Linked DNA regions of Homo sapiens. The protein of the gene in region 3 purifies or fractionates together with the protein of the main gene of each other region. This does not show direct contact. Each region holds a gene or a part of one and is shown on either strand. Other genes may lie near its edges. The genes, in order: CLCC1, LRP2 and RNASE13.

Region 1 (3,651 bases), on a different chromosome or scaffold from region 3:
CAAAGGCTCTCAAGTTCAAGGAACAGTCAGGAGCCCTTATGGCTAAAGTAGAGTAAGCACGGAGGGAGAAGAGGTGACCAGAGAGGTAGTGGATGTGGGGGAAGGGGAGACCAAGGAGGCTTCCAGGCCATTGTAATACTGGCTTTCCCCTCAAGTGAGATAGGAAGTCACTGGAAGACTTCTGAGATAGGTGACAGGTAATTACTAACTATAAAAGCTGGAAGGACCATCTTAAGTTGTTTTTTTTTTTTTTTTTTTTTTTTTGAGACGACGTCTCACTCTGTCACCCAGGCTGGAGTGCAATGGCACGATCTCGGCTCACTGCAACCTCCGCCCCCTGGAATCAAGCAATTCTCCTGTCTCAGCCTCCCAAGTAGCTGGGATTACAGGTGCATACCACATCACGCCTGGCTAATTTTCTTGTATTTTCAGTAGAGATGGGGCTTTGCCACGTTGGCCAGGCTGGTCTTGAACTGCAGACCTCCAGTGATCCGCCTGCCTCGGCCTCCCAGTGCTGGGATCACAGGCGTGAGCCGCCGCGCCTGGTCCATCTTTCTAGATACATGTAGATATGTTTATTTTTATATGAAACTATGGGAAGGGATTCTATAATTTCCCAGATTCTATTATGCTCATAACTGTTTCAAAGGTTTAACAGCTGCAATTTAAACATTTCAAATGACAATACAAATTCCTCTCTCAAACAGAAATGGAAATGTCCCTTTAAAAGACTGATAATGGTGAAAAACTTCTTCTTACCATTCTACAGGTAAAAAGTATAGTCTAGCCAGCCAATGACACTGAAGATTTGGGGAAGCAATGTTTTTGATCCCTGGCCCCAGCCCACTCTTCCATCCAGCTAATCCTTTAGGGCTCTACTGTACCTTCCCTAGAGCTCCGGGCCTTCAGTGATGCCTTCTCTCTGATCTCTTCAAAGATAGAAATTTCTGTCATGCTCATACGCTGGCTTCCCATGAAGGTTCATATGAATTACCATCTGCTCTAACAAACTACTGTTAAATTGTATTTTACATAAAAGTTAAATCTAATTTTATTTCTTCTGAGGAAGCTGAACTAACTTTTGACCAGAAAGGGGAGAGAGTGAGTGGCTGTATCACTCATGATATAATTAAGGGTGAGGGGTAAAAGAGTAAAAACAATCAGACCTCTTCCAGAAGGATTTAGAACCAGTAATGAAGGGACAGCAGAATAAAAGAGTTGCTGACTTACACTGGGTACCACCGTGGGATGCTCTCGTGCCTCTGCGTCTGGTACATCAAATGCCCGGAGCACTTCAGGGCTCTTGTTGCCAGTCTGAAATCTCAAGTCAACATCTCTCTCTCTCAAAATCTCTCTTCTACCCTCATACGTTTTGGCATAAGGGCCTTGCTCAGTGGGGCCCATTTGGCCCCTATAATGGAAATCGGCATCACCTGCTCCACCATCAGGTCTATAATCAATTTCCTCCTGCCGTCTTCTATCCCGTGGCCGAAGTGCCTGGGGAGGTTCGCTCTCAGGACCGCCTATATGTCTCAGCACATGAACTGATTTTCCAGCACCATAGCAGAAACTCTGTAAGGAAAAGAAATACATTTTCCTGAGGACTCAATGGCTAACTTACAAAAGTTATGAGGCATTTTATTCAGAGTGCTAACAAAGTTATGTAATTTAACTTACTTGTGGCATTTATAGACATAAACATGTTAATTTGACTTTTTTTCATTAGAGACCTCTTTAGATTAATACAAGGCCAGAGTGGCCAATAAAACTTAATAAATCTTTCAGTAGACATTTTAATCAGCTAGACACATTTCGATTGAACTATAACAATGGCAGGCTGAAGCCTAGATATTTAAATTAGAAGGTTCTAGTCTGATAATTATTCATGTTTCTAGATTCATGCCCATCATATAAGGTAAATGCTGAAAATATTTAAAGTTGTATATCATTATGTAAACAATCTTCTGTACATTTTCTTTTTACAAATATAAACTAGGCTTAAGTTACAGCTAAAATTCAACAGGTTTTGATTCACATTCCATGGGAAAAAGTAGGCAGCAGTTCCTTACAGTGTGGCCCAGGGACCCCCGGGGGATACCTGAGACTTTCAGGAGATCTATGAGATCAAAACTTTTCATAATACAAAGACATTATTATTTGTCTTTTTCACTGTCCCCTCCTGAATATACAACGGAGCATTCCAGATGCTAGAGTGACAGCCTCACTCAGACTCAGGGGATGCATGCTTGCGTGTACAGTACTCGTATGTTTTAAATTTGTTTTAACTCCTAATATGTAAGTATCAATAAATATAATCACCTTAAGTAAGAGCTGTTTGTGGGCTTCAATTTTTAAGACTGCAAAGAGGTCCTGAGAACAGAAACTTTGAAAATTTCTGTACTAGTTTTTCAAACACTACTATTTGAAGACAAAAGCAGCAAAAGTCAAAGAGCATAACTTTCCTGAGGGAGCACATGAAACAAAAACAGATGGTGAAGACTCTGCTGATAATTTCAGTTTCAGAGACTAAACTATGACTATAGAACTAATGTCACCTAACAAAAAAATACCCGTCAACCACATAATCCTGTAATCACAAGCCAAAAAACAAAACCAAAAAAGAAACGATTTCAAAGTGAACAGAGATAGTGAATCTTGTATCCTTAGGGAAGAGAATTTCCCTTGGCACATCTGAGTTCTTTTTGTTTTATGCGACAACTGCTTTACTTGGGTAATAGCTAAAAAATCGATAACAAAAAACACTGAATAGACCATGGAGGGATGACGAGTAATATTTCTTCTTAATGTCTGCTCCTGGATCCCCAAACTCTTTCTCAGCATACCCATGTTCTTCCACATCCCTTTCTGGTTCTGTGTCAAACTCAATGCTCTACCCTTCTCACTGCTGCAAAAACTGACTAGAAATAAGAAGTCCCCCTTTCTGGGAGACAGAAATCAACTTCCTATTTCCTGTGTATTAATTTACCAAGGTTAACACATTTAAAAAGAGGTTATTATTCTAAATCACTGCTATGACATATGCAATCAAACTAGAGAACTACTTTCTTGATTATAAAAATATACAAGTAAGTATAATATGTCTGTATCATTTAGAGGGGCAGAGGGGAGGAAAAAAATCTGTATCACTTAAAAATCGCCTTCTCATTAAGCGTGACTTAGCCTGATTTACAACATCAAAGAAGCCCAATAATTTTAGCATTGCCTTTTTTTCTGTAAATCTTGCTAAATATTGACAGTGCTAATATTTAATACTAACCAGTATTACTAATATTAATACTAAGATTTAATATAAATCTTGCTAAATACTGACAGTGCATATATATATATAAATATAAATATATAATATATAAATATATATTATATATAATAAATATATAAATATAGACAGATATATAAATATAAATATATATAGATAGATATATAAATATACATATATGTATAATTTTTTTTTTTTTTTGAGACGGAATCTTGCTCTGTCGCCCAGGCTGGAGTACAGTGGTGCGATCTCGGCTCACTGCAAGCTCCGCCTCCCAGGTTCACCCCGTTCTCCTGCCTCAGCCTCCCGAGTAGCTGGGACTACAGGCGCCCGCCACCACGCCCGGCTAATTTTTTGTATTTTTTTTAGTAGAG
Region 2 (3,651 bases), on a different chromosome or scaffold from region 3:
TATTAAACACCATCCCTGACACATCGAGGGGAATAACGTTAGTTAGATGATTGGTTGGCCAATAATGAATAGATGGATGATGAATGGAAAAATTAGTGCCATCTAGTGGTAAAGATCTGTAATAGCAGGAGAGCGAAGAACAGCTTGAAAGAATAAAGATGCATGCTGTAGAGAAATCACGGCACACACAGACGGATCTTTCATCTGTATCTTTGACACCGTGAAATCTTTATTCATACTGAGTCAATTTCTCAACTTAAATGTCTCTGGTCTGAAGATACTGGATCCAGAAGTCTATTTGTTCTTCTTTGTGACATGTCCTCCTATGTTACAAGGAACATTATTCCCAACTCGATGTTAGAATGTAGCTTTATTTGGTGGAAAGTTTTTCAATCTATGACTTTTTAAAAAATTATATTTATTAACTGTCAACACATCTTGAGATCTTTGAGCCTTCCAGAATCTCCCTTGTTTGCTTAAGGTTAATAAAAACCCAGTCATCCCAAAGTTTTTCCAAATCCCACATTATTTCAGGAGTCGGCAACTGTTACCTGAGTTCCATCAGCAGCTGGTGAAGTTGGGTTTGTCTCTGGAACTATCTCAGAAGGGTTTATGGGACTTCCATAATTCTTATTATCCACATTTTCAGATACAGTCACCTGTGGACATGTTAAAGGCCTTTACCCAATTTTGAAAGAATTTAGTAGTAAATAAATTTGCTGTAAAGTTTGTACCAACTCTGGCTCTTTTTGCCATCTTGTTCTCCCACAGACATCATCAGGCACCATTTTTATTGCATGACCCAGTAGGCCAGGACTAAACATCACTCCCACCGCCCCAAAATCAAGAGCAGCAACCACTAAGTCACCTCATACCTTAATCCTGGGAGGCAAATACATCCCTCACTGGTCACACTCTCACTTATTACTAGCAATTTCTACTGTATTCTCTATACCTTCTTACTCCCACTGTTGACCAAATTTTTGGATAATCATACTCTAGTTATATACTGGAAGCCAAATCCTAGAAGAACAGCAAGAATAATTCCCCAACCTCACTGATGAACTGAGAATCCTATCTTTGGATCTTAATAATTTCTTTGAATATTAATAAATCCTATCTTCGGAAATTAAGATTTCATAGTACTACTAAAAAGAGGTTGAATTTTTGAAAAGATGAGAATGATAGAATTAATAATCTTCTACGCATTTTTCTATAACATTCATACAATTCCAAGGTTCCCTTTTAAGACCAAATTACCATGAATGCATAATAAACTACAAGGTAGACAATTCACTCCTTTTCCTATATTTTCACATTCATTACTTGTTTATTCTGAAACTTGGATATGCATTTGTATACATGGCCTCATTTTATTTTAAGTGAAGATGTCAAATGAAATGTCGTATCTCTTTTATCATGTGATTAAAGTTTTCATATCTGTTTATCAGAGGATCAGGGAAAATGCTTTCAAGATTTAAACATTTCCGATCTTAAAATCACAAAATATTTGTAAAATAAACATTTCTAGTTTCTGTATTAAAATGTGCCATATCTCGAGTTCAAAAGGAGCATTAGGTGTTAACAATGACAGTTATTCATTGTCACTAAGGCCATAGTTGTTGTGACAAAGGAGATACATGTTCGCAGTTGACAAGCAGTAAAAGTGGCGCTGGGGCTATTGATGCAGACCTTATGTAAAGTTATTCCCTTCACCTATATTCCTATTTCATCTCCCAGCTCTTCTTAAAGATGACGGACTGAATCTCAAACATGCTTTCTTTACTATTCCTTTGCACCCGTCATCCCAGCCTCTCTTCACTTTCACTTAGACTGAACCTGACACCCATCAGGCTCAGCAAATTACCTGGGCTGTACTGCTGCAAAGCTTCACAGACAGCCCCCATTACTTCAGTCAAGCCCAAATTTCATCCTCATCTGTTACCTATTTCGGCATAATTCTCATAAAAACACACATGCTCTCCCTGCTGATCAAGTCTGACTAATCTCCCAAACCTCAATCCCTTCTACAAAACAACAACTCCTTTCCTTCCTAGGCATGGTTAGTGCAGTCAGAATTCTTACACAAGAGCCGGGACCGTGCCCTGTAGCCTTTCTGTCCAAACAACTTGACCTTACTGTTTTAGCCTAGCCCTCATGTCTGCGTGCAGCGGCTGCCACTGCTTTAATACTTTTAGAGGCCCTAAAAATCACAAACTATGCTCAACTCACTCTCTACAGTTCTCATAACTTCCAAAATCTATTTTCTTTCTCCCACCTGACGCATATACTGTCTGTTCCCCAGCTCCTTCAGCTGTACTCACTCTTTGTTGAGTCTCCCACAATTACCATTGTTTCTGGCCCAGACTTCAATCCAGCCTCCCACATTACTACGGATACCACACCTGACCCCCATGACTGTATCTCTCTGATCCACCTGACATTCACCCCATTTCCCCATATTTCCTTTTTTCCTGTTCCTCACCCTGAACACACTTGGTTTACTGATAGCAGTTCCACCAGGCCTAATCGCCACTCACCAGCAAAGGCAGGCTATGCTATAGTATCTTCCACATCTATCATTGAGGCTACCGCTCTGCCCCGCTCCACTACCTCTCAGCAAGCCGAACTCATTGCCTTAAGTCAAACCCTCACTCTTGCAAAGGGACTACATGTCAGTATTTATACTGACTCTATATATGCCTTCCATATCCTGCACCACCATGCAAGAGGTTTCCTCACTACACAAGGGTCCTCTATCATTAATGCGTCTTTAATAAAAACGCTTCTCAAAGCCGCTTTACTTCCAGAGGAAGCTGGAGTCATTCACTGCAAGGGCCATCAAAAAGGCATCAGATCCCATCGCTCAGGACAATGCTTATGCTGATAAATTAGCTAAAAAAGCAGCTAGCGTTCCAACTTCTGTCCCTCACAGTCAGTTTTTCTCCTTCACATTAGTCACTCCCACCTAGTCCCCCGCTGAAACTTCCACCTATCAATCTCTTCCCACACAAGGCAAATGGTTCTTAGACCAAGGAAAATATCTCCTTCCAGCCTCACAGGCCCATTCTATTCTGTCATCATTTCATAACCTCTTCCATGTAGGTTACAAGCCACTAGCCAGTCTCTTAGAACCTCTCATTTCCTTTCCATTGTGGAAATCTATCCTCAAGGAAATCACTTCTCAGTGTTCCATCTGCTATTCTACTACTCCTCAGGAATTTCTCAGGCCCCCTCCCTTCCCTACACCTCAAGCTCGGGGTTTTTCCCCCGCCCAGGACTGGCAAATTGACTTTACTCACATGCCCCAAGTCAGGAAACTAAAATACCTCTTGGTCTGGGTAGACACTTTCACAGGATAGGAAGAGGCCTTTCCCACAGGGTCTGAGAAGTCCACTGCGGTCATTTCTTCCCTTCTGTCAGACATAATTCCTCGGTTTGGCCTTCCCACCTCTATACAGTCCGACAGTGGACCGGCCTTTACTTGTCAAGTCACCCAAGCAGTTTCTCAGGCTCTTGGTATTCAGTGGAACCTTCATACCCCTTACGGTCCTCAATCTTCAAGAAAGGTAGAATGGACTAATGGTCTTTTAAAAACACACCTCACCAAGCTCAGCCACCAACTTAAAAAGGACTGGACAATACTTTTAC
Region 3 (4,138 bases):
ATGTGCGGCCCAAGACAATTCTTCTTCCAATGTGGCCCAGGGAAGCCAAAAGACTGGGCACCCCTACCCTATGAGAAACAAGCTATTGCAGACTTTTAGACGAAAGAAGGGATCACACTTTTTCTCTTGAAGTTGTATAAGAGATATATTTGAGTTGAGTCTTACTGGAGTTGGAGTGTGTGTGCTGTCCAGGCGAGACGAGAGCATCCACTGAGGAAGAAATAAGAATGGAAGAGATGGGCTTGGGAAAAGTTTAAGATTGTCAGGGCTGTGTGACTGATGGACTCAGGCTCATACTGAGGACTCACCATGTGCCGGGCACTGGTCTAAAAACTCTTGATATACATCTTAATGGATCCTCATACTGCCGTGAGGTAAAAAATACTATCCTCATGAACAGATGAAACAAGGAAGCTTTCAGTGGTTTCGTAAACAGATAGATGGTGTGCAGTTTGTAAGCTGCAGAGGCAGGATTCAATTCCTGGTCTGTTTCACTCAAAAGCCTTGATCTTAACCACCATGCAGGACCGCCTCCCCGTAGCTGGGATTGGGGAGGTGGAGGGGTCTAGGATCACTTTCAGGTTTCTTGCATAGGTAACCAGGGAAACTGAGTTGACAAAACAGGAAGAGAAACAAGTTATGGGGAGGATGGATTCCATTTTGGACTGTGGTTTGTGCTGTCAGAAAGTGCCAGTTTAGGGGGCTCTACATGAGGAACACCAATCTTTCTCTCTGCGGCCTTACTCCCTCCTCCTGAGCTATACTGAGGGTGTTGGAGCACTCAGCTTTCTGTGTTCTGACTCCCCTTTTCTGCTGCCCAGCAAAGGTAAAAAGGCTCTCCTAAGAGGAGGCCCCAAATCTGGAAGACACCTTGCAGACTAACAAGGCTGAGTGACCTGTGGAAGTCAAGGGCAAGAGCTAGCAGTTTCCAGGGAGCTGGCTCTTTGATTCTGATGAAAGGGAAGATGTTGATGAAAAAGATAGGAGCGTGGCCCTTTCCCCAGCATGGCAAACCACTCAGAGATCAACCAACAGTACGAAACGGATCATGCCAGGCTCTGGCATCCACAGCTTTTCATGTTCAGGTTATGCTTTCAAATCCAAACTGCCAAGTTTGAGGCTTCAGAGTCAGCATGCAGAGATTTCCAGTAGTGCTCAAACTCTGACAGGGCCTGAGGTCACAGGTGAAGGCTGTGGGTGTGACAGGAGTAAGGCTGATAGGGACCGTGGGGAGTCCACATGGAGGTCTTTGATTCTCAGCCCAGCACTTTGGTGGGAGGCCCCTGAGTACATGCCCTCCTGGGCTCCCGTGAGTGGGATGACAAAGTGGCGAATGCTCTGTTCTCTGAGGGTCAGGAATAAGAAGCACTTTGTTCCTCAGAAACATAACAGTGCTTTCCTACTCACCTTGCCACGAGAGCACAGGCTATGGAACAGAGAAAACATCAAAGAAAGCCCAGGCACTTAGGAACTTTTGGCAAGGAGATTGGAAGTAAGTGTTCCAATGACACTGTAGAGGAGGAGACCAGATAGTAATGCCTCTTTCCTCCCACCCATCCAACCCTCTTAGCACAGGGGCTCATCAAACTCGGGGACATTCCCTCCTCCCAGACTGATTTTTACCTAGAAACCTTTCTAGCCTCTCCTCATCTCTTGACTGTCTTGGCCTTGGCAAGAAGAATACACGTCCCTACCCAGCTATCTTCAGCTCCTGTCCTTCCTCCCAGCTGCCAGAGAATTGTCAGGTCAGCCTGCTCCTTCTTTCTTCTCTGCATTTTTTACTAGCAGGAGTGCCAGGGGCCCAAGGACTCTTGGGAAGAGTCTCTCACCCAAGGACCAGTTAGAGCTCTTATTCTGCAAATGTAGCTCACGGACTCTGCAGAGGCTGAGATTCTGTGGTGGACCAGGGGAGCAGGGCTGGCTGAAGGTGGCTGGTTGTCTGGGTGGCCTTGGGCAAGCATCTCCTCTTTCTGGGTCATGAGAACTTGGTTATGGGTGAGATGATCTCTAAAGTACTGTTGGGTTGGGAATGCTGGAGGCTCTGGGATGTGGCAGACAGCCACTTCAGGCCCACTGCTGCCCCCAACCACCTTAACTCTACCAGCAGGAGGAATGGCACCAGCTGTGACCCGGCTCCTTTTCCTCCAGCTTGTTCTGGGGCCAACTCTGGTCATGGACATCAAGATGCAGATTGGCAGCAGGAACTTCTATACCTTAAGCATTGACTATCCCAGGGTTAACTACCCAAAGGGTTTCCGGGGCTATTGTAATGGTCTGATGTCCTATATGCGAGGCAAGATGCAAAATTCAGATTGCCCAAAGATCCATTATGTGATACATGCCCCTTGGAAGGCCATCCAGAAGTTCTGCAAGTATAGTGACAGCTTCTGTGAGAATTACAATGAATACTGCACACTCACCCAGGATTCCCTCCCCATCACGGTCTGCTCCCTGAGCCACCAACAGCCACCCACTAGCTGCTACTACAATAGCACCCTAACCAACCAGAAGCTCTACCTACTCTGCTCCCGCAAGTATGAAGCTGATCCAATAGGTATCGCTGGTCTCTATTCGGGAATTTAATTCCTGAGCCACTCCCCAACCTCTACCACCACAGGCCAGCTGTCTCCATTTCCAACACTCTGATCCCTGTAACAAGACTTCCTTCCTGACTTACGAGGCAGGCAGGGTCCCCTCCCAAGAGACCAGGTGGGTGCGAAAATGTCCAGGGCTTTGATCACCATGCAAAGTGGTGCTATCTTCTAGGTTCTTTCCAGCTTGTTTACCCCCTCTTCGCCCCCACCTCCTCATCATCCTTCCTCTCCCAGAGACAGTAAAACCCACCCAAGAAGTTGACTGTGTCCAGTTGGCAGTGACTGTCCACCCACTGGGCCAGATCCTAAGTCCTGGATGGAGGCCCAGGGCCTCAGCTCACACCATGGCAACAGGCACCAGCTCCGAGTCTCACCTCCCCATCCCCACCAGCCTTCTCATGTCAGCCTCCCCCAGTTCCCTTATAATTCCCTCCACTCACCCACCTACTCAGGGGATATGGCTAGCTATAGGAACCTCCCTGAGGCCCTCAGACTCATGTTAGCCTCACTTCCCCACAACCCCCAGTTTCCAGCCTGCTTCTCTCTGTGAAATCATGGTTTCTCCCTTCATATAACTGTCCTCTCCTGCTTCCTCTTACCATGGAGCCTAGGACTGTCTCCCCCACACTCCCAACAACCGTAGTCACCCTGCCTTCCTTTTTCCAACCTCTTTTTCTTCCAGTCTTCTTACCTTGGCTCACTGGCATTTCAAGGTATCTTCTCTCACCCATTCCCCAGAGGTTCCTGCTTCCCTTCTCTTCCAGAAGCTCCTCCCAAATCCCCCAGACTCCAGAGTCTGCCCCTGACCAGGCAGCGAATGAGGCAGGCCCGGCTCTAATCGAACATAAATTTCTAAAACCACATCTGAGTATGTAAGATGTAACCATTGGGGGAAACTGGGTGAAGGGCACACGAGCCCCCTCTGTACCATTTTTTGTAACTTCCTGTCAACCCATAATCAATTCAAAATAAAAAGTTAATAACACACATCTGACTCTGTTGTGATTTAATTGCTTTTTCTTCAGTGCACCAGAACTCCTGCTCTTGGAATCCTGGCAGCCTGCCTCATCTGGCCATCTTCCTGAGCTACCCTTAGCAGTCAGTAAGCTCTTCTGTCCCATGTGCCCCATGATGGAGGTGATGTGGGGTAAAACTTAGTTCTGGGCTGGGTGTTGAAAATAGACTCTCCCCTTACCCCAGCTCTGGAACAAATTTGTAATAGAAGTCAGGCAACCTTAGCTGGCTTCTACTCCTCCACCCAAAAAACCTGAATTGCAACAGATGAGGAAGGTGGAGGGACAGGGAAGGATCTAATATGTGATATAGTCATAGTCCATCACGTGAGGAATTGCTACACCCTTTTGAGGGGTGGGGGTGGAGAGGTGGATATCAGTAATGTGTGAACACAAGTAGTAGATACTTTTACCTCCACATCTGGTTCATCTCTTTACTCCAAATATATTCTTCCATCCTGTTCTTGGAAGCAGCTGTTGAGGAGGAATGCTAACTGATGGCTGGTAGGCATAAGGCTAAGCAGAGCGAAG

Evidence for each region.
Region 1: the proteins of RNASE13 (region 3) and CLCC1 purify together in Homo sapiens (affinity purification with mass spectrometry, with the first as the bait; one large-scale study listed by BioGRID). This does not show direct contact.
Region 2: the proteins of RNASE13 (region 3) and LRP2 purify together in Homo sapiens (affinity purification with mass spectrometry, with the first as the bait; one large-scale study listed by BioGRID). This does not show direct contact.

The regions. Positions count from the first base shown.
Region 1 is NC_000001.11:108,935,847-108,939,497, forward strand, and holds part of CLCC1 (chloride channel CLIC-like protein 1 isoform 1 precursor), read right to left. Parts: intron 2,463-3,651; exon of another isoform or gene 2,320-2,462; intron 1,573-2,319; coding exon 1,231-1,572; intron 1-1,230. UniProt on the Homo sapiens protein: Anion-selective channel with Ca(2+)-dependent and voltage-independent gating. Permeable to small monovalent anions with selectivity for bromide > chloride > nitrate > fluoride.
Region 2 is NC_000002.12:169,132,023-169,135,673, forward strand, and holds part of LRP2 (low-density lipoprotein receptor-related protein 2 precursor), read right to left. Parts: intron 660-3,651; coding exon 552-659; intron 1-551. UniProt on the Homo sapiens protein: Multiligand endocytic receptor. Acts together with CUBN to mediate endocytosis of high-density lipoproteins. Mediates receptor-mediated uptake of polybasic drugs such as aprotinin, aminoglycosides and polymyxin B.
Region 3 is NC_000014.9:21,032,263-21,036,400, reverse strand, and holds RNASE13 (probable inactive ribonuclease-like protein 13 precursor), read left to right. Parts: upstream 1-1,593; 5' UTR 1,594-1,745; intron 1,746-2,104; 5' UTR 2,105-2,112; coding exon 2,113-2,583; 3' UTR 2,584-3,583; downstream 3,584-4,138. UniProt on the Homo sapiens protein: Does not exhibit any ribonuclease activity.